Linked DNA regions of Homo sapiens: region 2 is reported to be linked to region 1. Evidence: microRNA targets listed by miRTarBase, many of them from high-throughput screens and not tested one by one. Region 1 holds a microRNA gene; the other region holds the end of a gene's coding sequence.

The links. The annotated mature microRNA hsa-miR-558 reads UGAGCUGCUGUACCAAAAU and lies in region 1 at 866-884, opposite strand. An mRNA with a match to its seed (bases 2 to 7 or 8) in the 3' UTR can be bound and repressed. Matches are read on the target gene's strand: a 7mer-m8 pairs with bases 2 to 8, a 7mer-A1 pairs with bases 2 to 7 and ends in A, and an 8mer does both.
Region 2: the mRNA of ZNF141 is a reported target of hsa-miR-558. The part of its 3' UTR that is shown has no 7-base or 8-base seed match.

What each region holds. Positions count from the first base shown.
Region 1 is chr2:32,530,097-32,533,096 of GRCh38, reverse strand. MIR558 (microRNA 558) reads right to left here and starts at 944; the gene lies at 851-944. It overlaps BIRC6 (baculoviral IAP repeat containing 6), which reads right to left. Exons shown (of 74, transcript NM_016252.4): 61 at 1,546-1,742.
Region 2 is chr4:373,548-376,547 of GRCh38, forward strand. It overlaps ZNF141 (zinc finger protein 141), which reads left to right. Exons shown (of 4, transcript NM_003441.4): 4 at 1-3,000. The coding sequence ends at 315. Among named protein-coding and RNA genes, the nearest start is that of MIR571, 25 kb to the left of the region's middle.

The sequences.
Region 1 (3,000 bases):
ACACTGTAGGTTTTCTCCCCTATGATCCTTACTTCCTTCTGGGCCCTCACTGGCAGAAGCTTTATCATCCACATTTTATCTAACAATCTATTCAAGGTAATCTAGATTTTTTTTTTAAATCATGCTACTCAAAATTATTCCATACTCTGCCAAGTACCCAATTCTAAAGTCACTTTCACATTCTTAGGTATGTATTACCAGGACCCCATTTCCAGTTACTAATCAATATAGTGAACCACACTGAATACTAAATTAGAAAAAATCATTTATGTTGAGCAATAATAATGCTGAAAATGTTGGGGTCTTTTCTGCTTCAAACTTTTGAGTAATTATGTCATTGTCTAGTAAGAAAATTTTGCTCATTCTGTGTCAATCACCTTATAACATAGTTATATCATCTTATATTTTTGAATACTAGGGAAGCAATAACATGAATAAGTATTATTGTGTGTTGCATTTTGTCCTCCCAAGATATGTTCAAGTCCTAACCCCTAGCACCTATGAAGATGACCTTATTTGGAAATGGGGCCTTTGCAGATGTAATCAAGTTAAGATGAGGAGATAATGGTTTGCAGGACCCTACATTAAATGACTGGTGTCCTTATAAGGAGAAAGAGATACAAGGACACACAGGAAAGATGGCCATATGACGACGTAGGCAGAAATTAAAGTGATTCAGCTACAAACCAATGAACAGCAAGAACTACTGGCAACCAATAGAAGCCAGGAAGAAGCAAGGAAGGAGTCTTCCCTACAGCCTGAATTCAGAGGGAGCATGGCCCTGCTGATATCTTGATTTCAGACTTACAGCCTCCTCAACTATTGAGAATAAATTTCAGTTGTTTTAAGCCAGCCCGTTTGTGGTATTTTGGTACAGCAGCTCAGGAAACTATAATAGAGTCTAGAGCTACTATACCAAAATAACCACACACACACACACACACACACACACACACACACACGACATGAAATCAAAGAGAATAATTCCCCTACTTCATTCAACAAACACAAAGTTTTGTTTTTACAACTCTCCATGCACCATACTTCCTACTGATTGATACAAGAGCATGGAAAGCACAGACATTGACAGCTTCGTAAATGAACACGGGAATAGGTCATGTTTTTAAACCACCAAAAATGGAAATGGCACCTGAAACAGGAATAAAAGGTAAACAAAAAGACATATATTGGTGGCAGTATACACTGCTATTTTACTTCTCCTATTTCCAATAATATCTCTAATAAATATCACACTTAAAGCAGCATAGAAAAGAGAATGCTAGTGTTACAACCATGAAATCAAGATAAATGCAACAGTGTAGTAAGTCTGGCAAGTGTGCTTGATCTTCAACATTTCTTCCATACCTACTGAAGGTCATGAAGCTCTGTACAGACTGACCATTGAAAGAGTTATATAATGTTCAAAAAATATAAAGCAAAGGGTATTTCTACAAAGTTAATCCAAGTACATTAAAAAACAAACATTAAAAAGAATGAAGGGCTTAGCTATGGAATGATATACTCGATTAGGAAATCTTATCTTACCTGTTGAATTACTTCTGGATATAGCATGGGTAGTCTTTCAGCAATAAGAGCCAGTCCACCCATTCCTGCAAAAACTTGTAATGGTGACTGAATTGGACAGGTTTCAAGCAAAGATTCATCCAGTATCCCATCCATGCATTCATCACCTGGAGTGAGAGCCTCATCTTCTGGACAGCTAGCAAGTAAGTCTCCATGATCTAGACAATAAATTACAAATAACTGAATAGGTAAGAAAGGGTATATTTTTATAATATTCTTTCATTTACAAAAGCAGGTATTACTGCTTTCTTGCTACTCAAAAAAGAGCACAAAACATCATTTATTTAGATATAGCTGTATTATGGCTAGACGGTACAATGACCTTTAAATGACTTCTGATACTGCCTTCTTTAGTCTTGTTATTGGAAGAATGGTTCATGGACTAGTAGTATTGGCATCACCTGCAAGCTAGTTTGAAATGAAGAATCTCCATTTTAACAGTATGATGCTGGTCATTTGTAAGCATACTGAAGTTTGAGAAGCACTGTCCTTTAGGGCATACTTTAACGTATATCCTATGTTAAAATAAATAAGTTCTCAAAGTTCTCATAGCAAATAATATGCTCTAAAGTATCCTATTAAGAAAAATTAATGACAAAGACTTCCCTTACTTAAAACAAAAAATTATACCATATTAGTTTAACTCTGAATTACTCACCAAAGAAAACCAAAAGGTCACGTAACCAGACCCTTTAAACATTAAAACAAAAGAGAGAAATAATCGTGCTGAAAAACTGGGCAAAGACAATGTACCAAAATTTGCTGAAGAATACAAAAGACCAATAACTAAAGACTGAATTTTAGTCATGAGAAAGATGGAAAGTTTAAGTAAGTTCATATCATACTCACACTATGAAAACTACTTATATAGCATTTATAGGAGTAAAAATTGGAAACAACCACAATGTTTCGATGATTGGGGAACAAATAAATTTTCTTACATTTTTATGAAAAAATAGCCAATTCAAAAATGGATATTCAAAAATATTTAATGGAATATAAGGGCCGGGTGCGGTGGCTCATGCCTATATCCCAGCACTTTGTGAGGCCGAAGCGGGCAGATAAGTTGAGGTCAGGAGTTACAGAGTAGCTTGGCCAACATGGTGAAACCTTCTCTCTACAAAAAATACAAAAATTAGCCAGGCATGGTGGTGGGTGCCAGTAATCCCAGCTTCTCGGGAGGCTGAGGCAGGAAAATCACTTGAACTCGGGAGGCGGAGGTTGCAGTGAACTAAGATCGTGCCTCTGCACTCCGACCTGGGAGACAGAAAAAGACTCTGTCTCAAAAAAAATTAATGGAATATATAAGTAAAAAACAAAAATATGTGATCCCAATTATATGAGAAAACATGTTTATATGCAAGAAATGCCACTCAATATAAATTATAACAAAGTTGTAAGTTGAGTTTCTCACTT
Region 2 (3,000 bases), not on the chromosome of region 1:
GAATGTGGCAAAGCCTTTGGACGGTCCAGGGTCCTGAATGAACATAAAAAAATTCATACTGGAGAGAAACCCTACAAATGTGAAGAATGTGGCAAAGCCTTTAGACGGTCCACAGATCGGAGTCAACATAAGAAAATTCATAGTGCAGATAAACCCTACAAATGTAAAGAATGTGACAAAGCCTTTAAACAATTTTCGCTCCTGAGTCAACATAAGAAAATTCATACTGTAGATAAACCCTACAAATGTAAAGATTGTGACAAAGCCTTTAAACGGTTCTCACACCTGAATAAACATAAGAAAATTCATACTTGAGAGAAATCCTACAAATGTAAAGAATGTGGCAAACCTTTGGATGATCCACAAACCTTAATGAACATGAGAAAATTTATACTGTAGAGAAACCCTGGAAATGTGAAGAACGTGGCAAAGTTCTTTACCTCATTCTCAAACCTTGATAAACATAAGAGAATTCATACCGGAGAGAAACTGTACAAATGTGAAGAATATGGCAAAGCCTGTGAATGGTCCACAAACCTGAATGAGCAGAAGAAAATTATTACTGGAGATAAACCCTGCAAATGTAAAGAGTGTAACAAAACCTTTAAACAGCCCTCACCGGTGAATAAACATAAGAAAAATCATGCTGGAGGGAAGCCCTACACATGTGGCAGAATGTGGCAAAGCATTTAATTGGTCCTCAATGCTTAATAAATATAATTCATGCTGGAGAGAAACTTCACATGTGAACCGTGTGGCAAAGCCTTTAAATGGTCCTCAACCCTTAATGAACGTAAGTGAATTCATGCTGGAGCAAAATGCTTCACATGCGAAGAATGTGGCACAGTCTTTACCACATCCTCAAACTTTGTTAAACATAAGAGAATTTATACCAGAGAGAAACCCTACACATGTAAAGAATGTGGCAAAGCCTTCAATAGGTTCTCAACCCTTACTGTGCACAAGATAATTCATTCTGGGGAAAAAAATGCTACAAATGTGAAAAACGTGGCAGAGCCTTCAGACCATCCACAAACCTTTATGAAAATTCATATTTGAGAGTAGAAGATTCATTCCACAAACTTACATTGAGAAGATATGAAAGATGAATATAAGAATTCATCCTAGATATAAAACCATAGAAATGTAAAAGATGTGACAAAACCTTTAAGCCATACTCCAGGCTTCTTAAACATAATGAGAACTCATACTGGAGGAAAGTCTTACAAATGTGAAGAATGTGGCAGTCTTTAAATCTTCCTCAGTCTTTTCTAATCATAAGATAATTCACACTGAAGAGAAACTGCAAACGTGGAAAGTGTGACAAAGCTTGCAACCACACTCAATCTATTCTAAATATAAGAGAAATGATATTGGTGAGAAGCCACAAAAATATGAAAAATGTGGCAAAGCCTTCAAATGCTTGTCACATCTTACTGTATATATATAATTCCTACTGAAGAAATCCCCTGGAAATGCAAAAAATGTGGCAGGATTTTTACCAATGCTCATCTTTTTGCACATGATATCCTTTATATTCGAGAAAAGTTATAGAAATATAAAAAATATAGAAAAGTCATATCTCCTCACATTTTACTAACTAGCAATGTTCATACTTAATAAAAACATTATAAATGTAATTTCTGTTGAAAGACTTCAGAAAATATAGGCCTTTAAAGTGAAGAAGAGTATTCTTAAGACAAACAATACAAATATAAAGAGGGTTGTAGTACCTGTACTTCTCTCATGGATTTTGTTGTACACATTTTATAATAGGGGAAAACACTGAAGGAGACTTTCTTCAACATCAGAAAATTTATATTGGAGAGAAATCCTACAAATGTAATAAATGTGGAAAAACATTTGTTCAAAAACTGCAGCTTAAACAGTTTACACTAGAAAATATTTTGTAGATGCAGTAAATGTGAAGAAATATTTAGTCTAAAAAGAAGAGTATGTAAACATCAGAGGATTTACAGTAGAAAGAACTAAGGAACTAACACTTTAGACACTGCAGTAAATCAGAGTATTAAGTATTAAAAAAATCCAAAGTTGAACCTATTAGAGAATTTCTTTGTATATAAGTTGAAAAGAAGATTTTTGAAGAGATACTACATTTAAAGTATATTTTTTCACTTGAAAAAAGTATAGATTTTTTGAAAAGCATATAATAGTTAATTCAACTCAAATTATTTCATACTGTTTCAACATTCCTGTTTATGTGAAAGCATGTGATGAATTGTTGCTGCATCAGAGATAAGAGAGATTCTTTTTCATTAGGTGGGCATTATTTGTGAATTTTTACAAGAAAGAGTGAGGACAGAAATGAAAGATCCATGATGAAAATCTAGCAGAGAGGCTTTTTTGTAGTTGACAATATTGAGTGATGCATGAGGTAGGTGTTCAGAGTAATATTCTTCTGCATTATAGTGAGAGAAAATCTGTTTTAGTAGTAAATTGTTTTACCAATTATACATTTATGTAATAAGATACAGTAAATTTTAAAATTATTTTAAGATTATGTGGGAACATAATTTTTTAACTAAACAAAATTTTTAACGTGTTGAAATAATTGTTGCTTGAATGAAGTGTCATTATGCCACCAACTTAAACCTATCCCACCTTACTCAATGGTGTAGGTAAAAGATGGTAACAATGGTAACATAGTTGAATGACATTTTTAGTATTCTCTTTTTCCAGTGGCTTTAAATAGCAAATACATTGAAGAATATCATTCCCATATGTTGTATTTTCACTCTTGTTATTTTCCGAAATTTTTGTGGGTACATAGTATGCATATTTATCTATGGCATATATGGGTTATTTTCTTATACAGGCATACAACATGTAATATACCAGAGTAAATGAGTTATTCATCACCTCAAGCATTCATCCTTTGTATTACACACAATCCAATTATACACTTTAATTATTTCTAAATGTACAATTATGATTGTAGTATTATATCAGTATAATTATAATTCATACATTTATGCATCC